Regions from separate parts of the Homo sapiens genome. Here region 1 is linked to region 2. A link means that fine-mapping ties the variant in region 2 to the expression of a gene that starts in the linked region. Tissue or cell type: fibroblasts. Region 2 holds a variant in brackets; the other region holds the start of a gene. All regions are shown on one strand. Distances are between the middles of the regions.

What was found. PIP is the estimated chance that this variant, and not a neighbour inherited with it, causes the effect.
Region 1: TWIST2 starts here. The variant in region 2 is fine-mapped to the expression of TWIST2 in fibroblasts (GTEx, PIP 0.98).

What each region holds. Positions count from the first base shown.
Region 1 is chr2:238,844,879-238,852,512 of GRCh38, forward strand. It overlaps TWIST2 (twist family bHLH transcription factor 2), which reads left to right and starts at 3,207. Exons shown (of 2, transcript NM_001271893.4): 1 at 3,207-3,855. The coding sequence starts at 3,338. The coding sequence ends at 3,820. It overlaps LOC100287387 (a long non-coding RNA gene), which reads right to left and starts at 3,029. Exons shown (of 1, transcript NR_157851.1): 1 at 1-3,029. RefSeq lists enhancers at 1,143-1,653, 1,654-2,164, 3,698-4,207, 4,208-4,718.
Region 2 is chr2:238,724,576-238,732,209 of GRCh38, forward strand. The region is part of intron 1 of LINC01937 (long intergenic non-protein coding RNA 1937); the gene reads left to right. Among named protein-coding and RNA genes, the nearest start is that of LINC01937, 8.4 kb to the left of the region's middle. RefSeq lists an enhancer at 5,889-6,388. The variant T/C (reference allele first, on the strand shown) is at 4,012.

The DNA.
Region 1 (7,634 bases), 120 kb after region 2:
TTTCACTATGTTGGCCAGGCTGGTCTCGACCTCCCAACCTCAGGTGATCCACCTGCCTTGGCCTCCCAAAGAGTTGGGGGATTACAGGCGCGAGCCACCGTGCCTGGCTGCTATTCTTGAAGACTATCCCCAGGTGACAATCCCTGCAGTGTCATTCTACTGCAGCAAGATTAAAGCCAATCTAATAGCTGGCAAATTTGCTGTGAAAACATATCACCTTCTGTTACTTGCTGCCCTAAGGAAAATGTGCAATAGAAGAATCTTTCAGAACACCAGTTCATTTTTTTTTAAAAAACACAAAGTCACATGAAACAAAGCACACTTTTTTACATATATGAAAGGAAGCATTCACAGGATTTTCCATACTCAGTAATGAATAAGTACCCCAAGAACTGTATTTACTTCTGTGAATCTTTGTTGCGTGATATTTTACTGAAGTCCAAGTGAGCCTGGGTGGTCCTGCAAAGAGTATTCACACAGAGATATATTGTATTACTTATGCTATTAATAAATTGGCTTTATTAGCCTTATCACTGACTTAATTTTTGAAAGAAAAACTCAAACTAAATCAATAACCTGAGTATTATTTCCCAAATTGATGACATTTTCATTTGGGTTTTAATTCAGCAAATTCCCCTCCTCAAAAGAGGGGAATGCTGTCACTTCCCCAGCCAACATACAGGTGACATTGGAAACGCTGCTAAATGCCACTGTGCCTTAGCTTCTCCTATGTATGCAAGGGGTCACTGCCCAGGTAATGACTCTGAGGGGCTGGCAATACAGCATAAGAAAGTCACTCCAAATTCTGTTAAGCAAGGTTTTCCGCAGGCAGCCGTCAGTATCACAGCCTCCAGTACTATAATCATTGTTAAAGCATTTTAAAATAGACAAGACACGCCATGAAGAAAGTGCATCCAGACGGTTGAACTGGGCTGCTGGTTATGATAGCTCCAGGGCGCCCCGGGGGGTCGCAGGTGAAATCCTCCAGGTCCATCTCCCCAGGCAGAGGTGAGCCTGCAATCCAGCTTGCGCTGCCCTTCCAGGGCGTCCCCGGGGCCTCTGGTCTTCAGGGCTGGGCTGAGCCCTGGGCTGCTCAGGACCAAAGCTGAGCTGTTTTTCTTTCAAACTAAACTATGAACTCTCTCTGCTGGAGAAAGAGACAGAAAGGACAGAGAAAGAGACACGCCGACAGAGCCAGAGTGACACAGGGGCACGCAGACAGGGAGACGAGGATGGCGAAGCAGGCTACCAGGCAGGTCCTCTCCTCAGTAAAAGCCCTCCGCATCTGGGAAAGGGAAGATGTCCCTGGATCTGGGTCCTTGGACCCACACAGGGTTGGTAAAAGGGCAGCAAATCGCTACTGTCACTGCTCTGAGCAAAGAAACCAGGGAAAGGCCAGTTCGGGAAAAACAGGCCCTTTCCATCTGACGTGAAGCCCCAGGAAGGGCTGCAGCCCAGCACCGGCAGGACGGCTGGGGACCTGGCTTCTCTCTCTCTCTCTCTCTCGTTCCTTAAATTTTTATTTGAGAATTTTAAAGAAAGGGACCTGGAAAGCTATTTTGTTGGGCTAGAGGGGCCGTGGGCCTTCCCAGCGCGGAGGAAGGAGGGCGGTCAGGCCGGGTGGGGCTGGGTGCGGTGGCTCTGCAGAACCTTTAGGCACCGAACTGAAGCCGCGGGTCCGGTGCGCGGACACTGCGCAGGGCGCTGCTACCGACTCACATGCATGCGAGGGCCCGCTCCTAGGCGTTCTGCCTTCCTGGACGGATTGTTGGTAAAACGTCCCCTAGAACGGCCGGAGCCAGGGCCCTCGGACAGGGGCGCGAAGGGCCCGCTCTTTGCCGTCCTCGGGTTTCCCAACGCGGTGGTCGTGGCCCGCGGGCCCCACCTCGCGGCCCGCCTGGCCGGCCGGAGGAGCAGCGGAGGCCGAGCACTCCCCGGTCTCGGGTTCAACTTCAATAAAAGGGCCCAGCCCGCCCTTGATCACGCGGCTTGCCTGACAGCCCGGCTCAGGCCCGGGCCTAATTGAGCCCGGGTCACCTGGGAATAGGTTCAAAGGCATCAAAGCCGTAAAAACCACCTCCAGGCCCAGAGCCAGAGCGGCCTGGCGAACAAAGAGCCCCCCAACCACTTCAAACGCGCTCGCGCTCGCCGTCCAGATGGCCCGGGGCCGGGGTCCGTGGTGTCGCTCACCGAGGCCGGGCCCCACACTCCAGCCACCCTGAGCCTCCTGCTCGGAGCTGCCCGCGGGCTGCCAGCGCAGCGGAGGCTGGGCCCGGGGCAGCCTCGTGCAGCTCCCGGAGCGCCCTCCGTCCTCTGCTGACCCGCGAAGCGAAGGCGGAGCGCAGAGGCTGGGGCCGTACAAGGCGGGCCGGCAGGCGCCCCAACCCGCGCCCAGCAACCCGGGTAGGGCCAGGCAGGCGGGCGCGGCGGGTACCGGGCGCTCCCGCAGAGGCTCGCTGTGGCGTTGTTTTAAAGCTGTTAGAAGGAAGGTTCGGGAAGGGCGTCGGGGCCGGGGCTCCCCAGCAAGCCAGGGTAAGAAATGGTCCCCGACACGCACGCTGGCCGAAGGGTGGCATCTCCACGGATCTTGGCGGCATGTCCTTGGGCACGGGCGTCTCCAGGGGGCCCCGACTGTCCTTACACTGGCGGTCCGGACACCGAGACCCCTGCCCGCGCAGCTCCCCAGACCCCAGGCCTAAGCTTGCGGGCCGCGGTGCAGACTAGCTGTGCGCCCGGGGGCGGCCAAGACCCACACAGGTCGAGGAGGCTCCTGGCTGCGTCCTCATCTTCTGGGAGCGCATCTGGGACTGGACTCGCCTCTCTAGCCCCTCACGCCCAGAGAGAGAACCCCCCAAAGCCCAGTGGGGGCCGATCTCTACGTTGAGGCGTAGACAAAGCCAGGCTTGGCCGGGCCTAGGGCTCGGGGCGGCCTGAGAGTGCCCTGCGTTCGGGGTGGGGGCGCGGGCGGCGGGCGAGGACCCGGCCCCCGGGATGCCCTCCGCGCCGGGGCCGAAGGGGGAGGCAAAACTGAAAGTGCCGCGCCGGGGGGCGGGGGCGGCCGGCGAAGGCCCCAGAACTTGTCCTGCCCCCGGCCACCGCGGCCAATCAGCGCGCCGCCCTAGCTCCTGACAACTATTTAGCAACCCAGCCCAGCTAGAGTTTCCAAAAAAGTTAGAATAACTTCCTCTCCCGGAGACCTCGGTTTTGCACAAGCCGGCCTTGAAATCAGAGCCTTTCCAGCAACTCCGAGAGCGTGTGCTCGGCGACCGCGGGCTTGGCCAGCGGCGCGCGCTCGGCGCCCCGGCGCCCCCAGCCCCACGCGCGCCGGGCGGGCGCCATGGAGGAGGGCTCCAGCTCGCCCGTGTCCCCCGTGGACAGCCTGGGCACCAGCGAGGAGGAGCTCGAGAGGCAGCCCAAGCGCTTCGGCCGGAAGCGGCGCTACAGCAAGAAGTCGAGCGAAGATGGCAGCCCGACCCCGGGCAAGCGCGGCAAGAAGGGCAGCCCCAGCGCGCAGTCCTTCGAGGAGCTGCAGAGCCAGCGCATCCTGGCCAACGTGCGCGAGCGCCAGCGCACCCAGTCGCTCAACGAGGCCTTCGCGGCGCTGCGCAAGATCATCCCCACGCTGCCCTCTGACAAGCTGAGCAAGATCCAGACGCTCAAGCTGGCCGCCAGGTACATAGACTTCCTCTACCAGGTCCTGCAGAGCGACGAGATGGACAATAAGATGACCAGCTGCAGCTACGTGGCCCACGAGCGCCTCAGCTACGCCTTCTCCGTGTGGCGCATGGAGGGCGCGTGGTCCATGTCCGCCTCCCACTAGCGCCGCGCCACCCACCTCCGGACCGGCGCGCCAGGGTAGGTGCTGCGCGCGCGACGGGCGCCCTCCGCTGCGGGGGGCGGGCGGCAGGGGCGCAGGGGCATTGGGGCCTGCTCGTGTCTCCTCGGCGAGGCCCCGCGGGCCGCGGGGGCTTGGATGCCGTGCGCTTTTCCTCTTAGCAAGGAAGGCGGGCGGGCGGGACGCTCACAGTCCCAGGGACACCCCTGAGTGCAGACTTCCACGCGAGGGTGTCAGTTGGGAACCGGCGGACCGGTGACTCCCCCGGCGGGTTCTGAAGATACTTAGACAGATGGTCGCAGTTTTCATTCTCGGTGGTGTGTGGGTGTCCGTGGTTGGCGGTGGAAGGAGCGAGCATCAGAAAAACCTCCTGGGGCCGGCTGGGGACTGGGATATGAGGACCAGCTGCCCTTTGCGTCCGCCGCAGCGCAGGCCGCCCGCGAAGCTGCCCGAGCCGGGTGTTGCCGGGCGAATGGCTTCGCTTTCTTCCTGGGCAAGGGTAGAGCGCGTCCGTCGGGCGGACACTCAGATCTACCCAGCTGCTCGCGCCTGGGGTCCCCGGCCGTCGGCGCCCTGGCCTGCCCAGTGGGCGTAGAGGTGCGGGCCTGCGGCTCCAGGGTTTGCCTGGGGAGGACGGGAGGAAACTGCCCTGCGCTTCGGGGCCAGAGCAGCCACAGGGCCGGGTGTGCCCGAGAAGGGCCCTGGGCCGAGAGCGCAGAGCCTGGAGCGCTGAGGCAGGCGGGTCCGACGCAGCCGCGCGGAGCCCCAGGGCGCCCGCAGGCAGGTGGAGCTGACCTAGGAACTGGGAGCCCTGAGTCCCAACCTTGACCCTGGAGTACCCGGGAGGGGCCCCGCCCATCCAGCCCCGCAGGGATGGGCGAGGGGTCCAGGCTGGGAAACGGGTCTGGGGGACAGGGAGGCTGTGCGCGCCGGGCCCTGCGCGAGGAGAAGGCTCGGGGGACACAGCTGCCAGGAGCACTCCAAGTTCTGGTTTCCTCTGGAAGAGCGATTAGGGCGTCCTGCACCGGGTCCTTTTCACCAGACACCTTCCAAGTCCCTTTAGACAAGCTCGAGCCACGGAGGCGCCGTCCTTAGGCTCTGTGAGCAGGCGAGCCCCTCTCTCATCCGCCATCCAGGGCCATGGAGGGGCACAGAGTTCTTTTTGCTGGGGCCGAGTTAAAAATCCTTCCCCCTTAGTATGTTTTAGTTCCTCGCACATCTTGCGATGTTTTTATAAAAGACTCTACTTCACACAGAAGGAATTTAGATTAATCAAGAGCACCCGGCCGCCTATTCTCCCAAACATATCTATTTCTTTTTTTATGTGGTTCTATAATATCTGCGAATGTTGTTGCTGAGGCCACGAAAAGCTGATCCAGCACAGGTGGGTTTTATTTCATTTTTTTAGCTTTTATTTTGGTGTCACTGAAAATTCTGTAGCTGCAGAGCCTCCTGAGATAATGATAATTGTATAGTTTTTAAAAAATAATTTTCAGCAGAAAATAACTTGTGGGAATCTTCTCCTGTCTTTGTCAAAAACAGATGGAAAGTGTCTCAATCACATATTTCTCTAGGAAAGTTTGGATTGGCTGAGTACTAAACGCTACAGTGGGGTAATACATTAATTCTGGTTTTTGCTGCCTAAATAATGAGCTTCCATTAGTTACTTCCATTTATGCTTTACCTCATTCATGGTTTATAGCACATCTGAAATAAGAACAAACAGATGAGGAATGTCATCTTTTTAAAAACACACACATTGAGCCGTGTTTAAGGAAAATGTCACTTTAATTATCGTTAAGACTGCCCTCCAGAAAATTACTGAAAACAAATACCAGTAGATATGATGCTGCTAGAATTTAGTAGGAACATTTAAAATTCATTTAAAAATAATCGCACTCCTCAAAACTTAGAGAATCAGCCATAGGTAACCATTAAAGATTATAGAAAAATAAAATGCAATACATGTAATAAATAAATAAAAACAGTGCCAAGAGCTTGTTTGGAAAAAAGCCCTTGAAAATATAATAGATAATTACACAGTTAGTGGGAGAGCTGATGATCTATAAGGAGCCTATTTATTTTTATTTTTACATACTGGACTATAACTGAGTAGTTCAAACAAGCTAGTTTCATTAAATAGATACTCTAAAAGAAGAGAAAAGAAATATGGAAAAATTTTATCCATGAATGATTCTGGACACACCTTGTTTTTATTTATCAGGCACGTTAGGCAGACATCTTGTCATTCTTTTTGTCTTTAACTCATTATTCCCTATAAGATCAATACGATTATAATTGGTTTGATTTCCTGAAAATGTTGCTAAACAGCATTTGTTTTTATTTGTAGCATTTCTAAGAAGCATTAATTATATGCATCAGCAAAGAATCTCTAGACATTTCAGTACATTGTAAGTGATTTTAATGTTTGATGTGGGATGTTTTCACGTATGTGAAGAAAACTGTCAAGACTAACAGCAACAGCAGCACAAAGCCTAAATTGTCCTCTGAAAGGAAGAGAAACGCAAGAGATGGTGGAGTGCGGGTGCTGCCGATATCTATCCTGCCTTTCTTCTTTGGCCTGGTATTTAAAAGCACAATTAGACAATAAATCAGGTGTCTTTGTCCAGTCAGTTGGATTCATCTAATAGAAAAATCTCAAAAGGATTTTTTTAGTATTCTCATTAAATGCCTGAGTCTTCGGAGCAGGGTCCCAGACACCTGGCTTGGAGGGTGGGGGAAGGTGACCATTACTTATCAGACATTTGTCCTGTTCCCTGCTGTGTGGTTAAAGAAAACATCTTCTCTAACTTCTGCATAGTGTGCACAGATTTTCAGTAGATTTCCTCACTCAACAAACTTTTTTTTTTCTGAGAACTTTTAGCTACTTTGAAGAAATTGCATGACCCCTTCACCATCTAATATATGTGAGCCTTTTCCTCCCTCCTGAAAATTTACTTCTCATAGGTGTTTGTTAACTGCTGTATTCAGGATGCTAGAAAATCAGTTCTTCGTGGAGAAGAACAGAAATGCAGAATCCCAATGGAGCTTTTGCTTGCCTAGAAGAAGTAGAATGAAAGGCTGAGCTCCCTGGAATATAAGCAATGTTTGGTTACAAAATACCCATCAATAAGATCTGATGTAGGGATTTGACCTGTTAATGTGGGTCTTTCCCCTTAAATATCAGCAGTCCTTTCGGCCTTGCATCAGGGAAGTCTTGCTACTCATCTTGCTGGAGAGGGAATTCCTCAGACTTCAGTGGCTCTTTGAGGCCATTTGAGATAGAATACTTCACTGAGGTTTCCTGAAACTCATATTTTCATACAGATCTTGAGCTGAACCATGTTCTTGTCATCCTTGCTTCACTCTGTTCTGGGTAGACGGCACAGATGCCGGATTCCTTTTGCCTGGCAAAAAAATTTAAAAAAAGAAAAAAAAACACCACACACATAAAGTAAACTCTTTCTGAGCAGAGCACTATAACTCATAACTTTAGTTTAAATCTGGGCTTTAAAAAAAACAAATATTTTAATAAGCCAATTTTAAAGGCTGAACTTTTATGACGGTTTTTAAGCTTAGTATTTATATTAATCTATTCTCACTGGTGTCTTTAAAAACCCTGTGAATGCATGCTGGAATGTCTGTTTATGTTTGTGTCTTTTCCTGGGAAAGGATAAATGTGCTGCAAAAAGCAAACCAAATACAGAACTCTCCGCTAGCAGAGAGTTCACAAATGAGGCAATAAAATTCAAAGAAGAGATGAATAAGTTACTGTAGCCAAGGACTGGAAAACCATAAA
Region 2 (7,634 bases):
TTATGAGTTCAAACCGTTCAAAGAGATATAGGACTATTCAGACATTTTATTTCTAATAATAATTATCTAATAAAATACTTTAGTATATAGTACATATTAGTACTAAAACATATTTAGTACTAAGCTTTCAAAAGAAACCTGTTAATGAGGTTATATATCTTGATGCAAAAACTATGGTGATACTAAAGGGAAGTACAGGGGGAAAAAGAGATATGTTTAAGAATTAACAAAGCGTAGCCCTAAATAAATACTGGATGTCAGGGCTACAAGAGAAGAATGTCTAGGCTGCCTGCCGAATTTCTGGCTTCTGTAAGCGTGCTCTTGGAGGTGTAGGCAGGAAGAGCAGCAGGCTCAAGGGACAGAGACGCGGCTGTTGCACAGACTCATGGGATCTGAGATGCCTTTCTGGCATTCAGGTGGATAAACTCCATCAGCAAGAGTTCCATGGCAGCAGCTTGGAGGAGGACGGGGCGGGAGTCAGGTTAGGCATTTCCAGCAAAAAGAGGGCAGCTGGAGCCTGCGGTGTGAATGGATTCACTCAGGGGATGGTCAGAGAGTTCACTCAGAAAGGACCAGAGAGGATCAGGAGCCAGGGGAGACTTAGAGGTATATGTTTTGGTGGATTATGTGCTTTTTAAGGTAGGTGTGGCTAAGGGGCTGGGTAGGAAGGAGATTCAGAAGAGAGGATGATCATTGATTAAATAGGTTTTCAATGAGAGTTTTAGTAAATCCAAGGTTCTAAGGGTGAGTTTCTCCTTAGACAAGAGGACAGACACCTTGTCCTCAATGAGAAGGAAGGTAGGAGGACAGAGTAGGGAAAGGCTCCCCCATGGAGCTCTTGGGCGTCTCTGCGTAGGTGAGTCTCAGCCTCAGTCGGACCCATGTCTTGGCAGAACACTCTGTGATCCTTCCTGGGATTCAGCAAGCAGGGCAGTCTCGTAAGGGTCATCTGTAGGTCATTTTCCATCCACTTCCCTGTCCTATAGGAGGCTCCCTGTCTTGTGAGGGGCTGCCACAAGACACTGTCTTATCCACTTCCCTGGTTCCAGTGAGAAGTAAAACTTTCCACATGCCCCCCTTAGGGCATAGCTCCAGCTATAAAGGTGCTTGGTTGTATTTTAGAGTGAGATATCCCAATGGAGCAACCCACTCCTCATGTCTGTCATCTGGCTTCTCCAATTTGGTGTCATCCTAGGGATGTGGAAAGCTGACATTATGATGATGTTGCTTATGCCGTTAGTGTAAGTGATAAACAGTCTAAAACCATCTCCATATTGACCAGATCTATGTGGTCTGAATGTAGGTTTCATGTTGCAGCCTAATATCCAATGCGATGGTATTAGAAAGAGCAGCCTTGGGAGGTGATTGCCTCAGGAAGGTAGAACCCTCATGAGTGGCATTAGTGCCCTTATAAAACAGACCCCAGAGAGCTAGCTGGTCCCACCCACCCAGTAAGGACACAGCAAGATGGTGCTATCTGTGAGCCAGAAAGTGGGCCCTCACTAGACACCAAATCCATCTTGACTTTGGACTTCCCAGCCCCCAGAACTGTGAGAAATCAATTTTTGTTGTTTATAAATATTCAGTCTGTGGTATTTTATTATGGTAGCCTGCATGGTCTAAGGCGTGTGGCCACTCAATTTTGTGATGAAGTCAGTGGTGCTGCTGGGGATAGTGTAAGGCTTGACAGGAAGTGTGGGCAAGAGGGTGGGCAAGACGGTGCTCATTCTGTCTGAGAAGTAGGCAAGGTGTTCTAGGGCAGTGGTGAAGACAAAGTTCAGGAGATGGTGAATGTTTTGAAAGGAAAGTTTAATATGTTTTCAAATTATTTATTTGCTTTTTTTGAGAGTGGATCTCACTTTGCAACCCATGCTGGAGAGCAGTGGCACCATCATAGCTCATTGTAACCTGAAACTCCTGGGCTCAAGCCATCCTCCTGCCTCAGCCTTCTGAGTAGCTGGAACTACTGGTGCACACCAGCACTTCTGGCTACTTTTTTCTTTTCTTTTCTTTTTTTGTAGAGATGGGAGTCTCACTACATTGCACAGGCTGGTCTCAAATTCCTGGCCTCAAGTGATCCTCCCGCCTCAGCCTCCCAAAGTGCTAGGATTACAGGCATGAGCCACTATGCCTGGCCTAGAATGGGTAGTTTAGAACAGACCAGCATCTCTGCATGTGCCTGTGTCCTGTAGGAAAGACCCAAACTCTCTGGAGGTCTCGCTACCCAAGGAAACATGAGCCTGGCCGGCTTCTGGATGTGGGGAAGCCTTTCACAGAGAGCAGGGTTCCCCATTGCTGAATTAACCTCTTGTCCTGAAAGAAGTAATGGTCTCGTTCTGGGACATCTCATATCCCTCATGGTCCCAAATTGGGCCCTGTGCAGCACAGATAGAATTGAGGAGGAACCTCTCAGTCCAGAGGGACGAAACTTCACCTAGAAATGAAGCAATATCTTTCTCAGCAGCTGCTCACTGAAAAAGTAGGGTGCCTTGGCTAATGTGAAGGGTGGGGTCCCAGAGATGAGGCCTCCAGAGGTTCTGGCGGGAGAAACACGTGGGATTTTGTGGAGTACAGTTCAAGAGCCATAGGTCTGCTGCAAACCCGCACTATGACTGTCTCATGGAAGAGCAAACGAGGACACTGAGGCTCTGAGCAGTGAAGCAATATGCCCGGAAGCAGGCAGGCAGACAGTGGCAGGACCAATGCCGACAGCCGGTTTCTGAGTCTGGAATACCAAGTTTGTTGGGGAAATGTTCCAAATAGGTGTCAGGAGGGCACAGGGCCAGGGCCAGGTGAGATGTGTGCAGAGCAAGGTGGGAATGAGGGGTCCCTGAGGATAGCACTGGGGTTGAGGTGGAAGAAAAAGGGAACCCGTGCCAAGCTCTTCTTTCCTTAACAAATGTTTACCGAGTATCTCCTCCGTGTCGGTGTGACATTAGGTGCAAAGGACAAGGCAACGGGGACTGTTTCTGTCTGTGTGGCACATCGAGTCCTGTGGAGAGAGACTCCCAGCAAGGAGTAATGCTTTTGCATATAACAAGACTTACACGTGACTATAGATTCCACTTGCACCATGCTTTTCGTGGACTCATTTGTTCAGGGATGTGGATGTAATTGACATTCCATTTTACTAAGCACATCGTGTTATTCCATTCTCATGACAACACCCGGTTTATGGATGAGATATCTGGAGGTTGCATGGTTTTCGTAACTTGCTGAGGGTGTCACAGCTGGGAAAGACAAGAACCAGGGTTCCTACCCAGCTCTGTAGGAGTCAAAAACCCAGGCCCTTGGCACCTGCACAACACCTCTGCCTCATTTCTCAGTGAGCTCTTGTTTTGTCTGCTCTCTACCCTTGTGCCCCCACACGCTGTCATCTCCTGCCCTCCTTTGGAAGCATGAGGCTGGGGGTCACAGAGGGAAGCTGGCCCCTCTGGAATGGTCCAGGTCTGTTCAGTGGATGGGAGGGGCATTGGGCTGCAGAGCTCAGCCCAGGGGTGCACATCTGGGAGCCTGTCAACCACAGGGTCCGCCTGTAGACCCAGCAGAGAGCATCGTCACAGGAGCCAGCCTTGGCCCGGGACATTCAGTTAGAACAGCTCATTTATTTGGCAAATTCCACTCCCAAGTTGGAAGTCATGTTAGGATTTGCTCATGGGTGCAGGGTATTTCTGGAACATTGAGTGCAGATGAACAATGAAATTCCTCCCTGGAGGGCACCTAGGAGAACTTGCGGGCTTATTAAAATCGCAGCAGTGGGGAGATCACTTCACTTCACAAAAGCAAACAGCAAGGTCACTTAAAAATTGTTGCCTCTTTTCTCTCATTAAAAAAAAAAAGGAATGCTTGCTTGGAGCTAGGGCTATCTTGACTTTCAGCCTGCCAGGCAAAGGGATGCTCACGTCATGGACCATTATCTGATTGTAATCTACGAATTCAGAGAAGTTTCTGGGTAAAATCATAGTGGGAAAATCGAGTTTTTGGATCTGTGTCTTCAGAACGATGCAGTTA[T/C]GTGGAGGAAGGCACTCCCGGGCCTGGGCCTGCCTTGCAGCGGTGAGTTACTAAAGCTGGAGAGTTCAAACTCTCCAGCTCCGTGCAGATGTAAGTTTTCAATTAGGTTGCCTGGGTCCAAGATTAGTCAGAAACACTGCAGTAAAACTTAATCCAATCATTCTGATTCTTCTCCAAACATGATTTATCTTATGATCATCAGTACTTCGATGAAAGGGGAAACGCCAGTTCACTTTTTTTTCCCTTTGCTGTGATTCATGTGTCCATTATCCCAGAATCTGAGTCCTGTTTCAGTTTGGCAATAGCTTCCTTTGGCATTCTATTTTTGTATGATCATTAGCATTCCTTTTTTCCTAAGCTTTCATAACATTCAAGTCAGCCTTTTATATCCTTCCCCAGAAGGGCTGGAGATCTTGTAAGCTCCCGCTGTAAGCAGGGCCTGCCTAACCTTAAATGTGAAACATGTTTTAGTGCTGAAGTCATTCCTCAAAAAGCAACGTGAACTTGGGAGGCTGTGCCTGGCAGAATTCAAAGTGCCCCGTGGAGAGACTGCGGGGAAGGACAAAGAAATTGGGACCTGCCTGAGGCCATGAGTCCAGACACAGGCATGAGCTCCTTTCCTGTGCTGTGGAAGCCAGTGGGACAGAGGGTGTTGTGCTGAGGAAGCAAGCCAGTAGGACAGAGGGTGTCACCCTGGTCTTAGGGCCAATCAGTCAGGCACAGAGCATGGAGTTCAAGTCCTGCCTCCGTTGCTAATTAGCCAGGAAATCTTGAGCAAGTGGTCCCACCTGCAGTGCCTCGGTTTCCTCATCTCTCACATGAGTCTTCCTCACGGGTGGTTTTGAGACTCAAATGTCATAATGAGCATGAAATGCTGAATATCTGACCAGGCAGGTTGGATACATTCGATGTCCCCTTAGTGAGCCCCTACTGTGTGCTAGTCCTGGAGGTGCAGGGATGGAAGGTGTGGTTCCTCCCTCCTGGGAGCTCCCAGTGTAACTCAGCAGTTACCAGTTGGAGCTGTTCTGCCCCTAGGAGACACTGGATATCGTCTAGAGACATTTCTGGCTGTTGTGATTTGATGTCAGGGAGCTGCTGCTGGCATCTAGTAGGTAGAGACCAGGGATACCGCTAAACACGCTATAATGCACAGGACAGCCCTGCCCCCAGAGCAAAGGATTATACAGGCCCAAGTGTCAACAGTGTCGAGATTGAGAAACCCCGGTCCAGCTGAAGAACTTCATGGGTGACCAGGCCGTTGAAATTCAATATGACGAGGGTCTTAGTAACAGGGTGAACTCAGGGGGCAGAGAGACCACCCCTTGTTTACTCTGTCTCAGTCATTGGGTCAGACTTAGTATGACACCCATGAGGCTCCCAGTCCCTGCCCATTTTTCAGGAGAGCTGAGGTGGTCCAAGCCCAGTTTAGCACACAAGAGGGCTCCTTCAACGACCCCCATACCACCATCTAAGAAAAATCTGCCAAAACGTGTGCAAAGTATGACAGCTGCTCTGTGCCAGGCACCATGCTAGCACTGCTCCTGCCCCTGCCCGGTCAATAACTAGTGCATGGCCAGCCTGGAGCTCCTGCCCCTGAAGCCTGAGCCTTGGCCATGATCCCAGGCAATGTCTCCATAAAGACGCCTTAGGACCTCGCGGCCTAGGCACTTTTCTTACCCCAAGTCTTCCAGAACCACGGATCAGGAAGAGGTACCCAGAGCCCTGGAAAGCTCCTGGGTTGCTGAGTTCTGGGAAGAATTCCTTCCCTCCTCAGTAGGGACCTCAGACAGAAGGAGCCGTGGACGGCCGCTCTGTTAGCTGAGGCTTAGCACAGCCTGCCCCTCCCTACATCGCTGCTGGGACCCAGCTTGCTGCAACACAGCGGTTCTCAGAGTGGGGTCCCCCAAAGGCAGTACCAGCGTCACCCGGGGACCTGTTAACTATGCAAAATCTGAGACCCTACGACCTACTGCATCAGAAACCCTGGGGATAGGGCCCAGAAGCCTGTGCTATGAAGAGCCTTGTAGGTGAGTCTGACGCGGGCTGGAGTGTGAGAACATGCCTGTGGAAGGCAAGCCCCTGTGGGTGGTCAGGTAAGTCCTTCCACTGCTGACAGTGCTGGGCTGAATGCAGCTGGGTTCCCTGGGAGCCCTCTCAGTACAGTCTCTCCCGCCTGCCTGGGAAATTCACCTTCAACTCCACGAAGCCTCAGCTCCCCTCTGCAAAAAGCACAGAATTGCTTTGAAGTTAAACCATGTGGCAATCATGATCATAAAATTCTTAGGTTGGTGCAAAAACTGCGATTACTTTTGCACCAATCTAATAAATTCAGCCCCCTTAGTAGAAGGCTCTAAGTTGAAGAAGTTTACTATAGTTCCTCTGTTTTGGTAAAAAGCAACATTGAATCAATGCAGGCAGCAAGCAGGAAACATTTAAAATGGACGCCAGTGAGTCAAGACATGGAGCGCTGAAAATGCTGGGACTGCATTGGAAATGTGCATAAAACTTAAAACAACAGAGATGAGAAAGATACATTCTATCTCCATCTGGCAAGTTAAAAAAAAAAAAAAAACCAGAATGCTGGTCGTGCTGTATCTTGAGTTTGGTGATAGTTACAGGAGTTTATTCATTTGTAAAAATTCATTGAGATGAATGAATGCATTTAAGATTACATATAAAGAATATAAATTGTCCAGGCACTGTGGCTCGTGCCTGTAATCCCAGCACTTTGAGAGGTTGAGGCTTGAGGATGACTTGAGCTCAGGAGTTCAAGAATAGCCTGGGCAACATAGCAAAGCCCTGTCTCTGCAAAAAATAAAAAATAAAAAAAAATTTACTGGGCATGGTGGTGCATGCCTGTAATCCCAGCTACTCAAGAGGCTGAGATGGGAGAATCCCTTGAGCACAGGAGGTTGAGGCTGCAGTGAGCCTTGATTGCACCACTGTGCTCCACCCTGGGCAACAGAGCAAGACTCTTTCTCACAAAGAATAATATAAATTATGCCTATATGTCTATAAACATTGAAAAAAATTCTGTATTTTACAGTTTGTATGTTACACTTTAAAGTATTTCAGGTTGACAAAAAAAAAACAGATAAATGAACTTTTGGTGAAAGAGCAAGGAGACTGAGACTTTCAGGAAGTGGTACAGGCACAATGCATGCTGGGAACGGAATGGGCAGGTGGAGAATGGCCTTAGGAAGCACTGTGCAGTCTGCACCACTAGTGATGAGCTTGTGAGTGTATGGTCAAGGCAGAACTAGGTATGGACTTGTAAAATCTATTGACAATTACAACTTAGCCCTGAATTTGAGAAAGCTGGAAGGAAGTCGTCTGGAGGACTTCTTGGGTGAAAAGGCGTGCAGTAACCAGACTTCCAGACTTTTATTTACAACTGGGCATTAAAGCCAACGCTTAGTCTCAGAAGGTTGTGGTGTGAATTAGAAGCCACCTGGGAGTTGAGCAAGACTGACTCAAACTCCAGTTCCAAGCCCTGGGACAATCTAATGCTGTTTCGGAAAGTCTATAACTTCCTCATAAAGTTTCTGGGTTTTTTCCCCTTTTTTTAAAACTTCTTACAAAATGAATACACATTTTTTTTAGAACAGTTTTAGATTTACAGA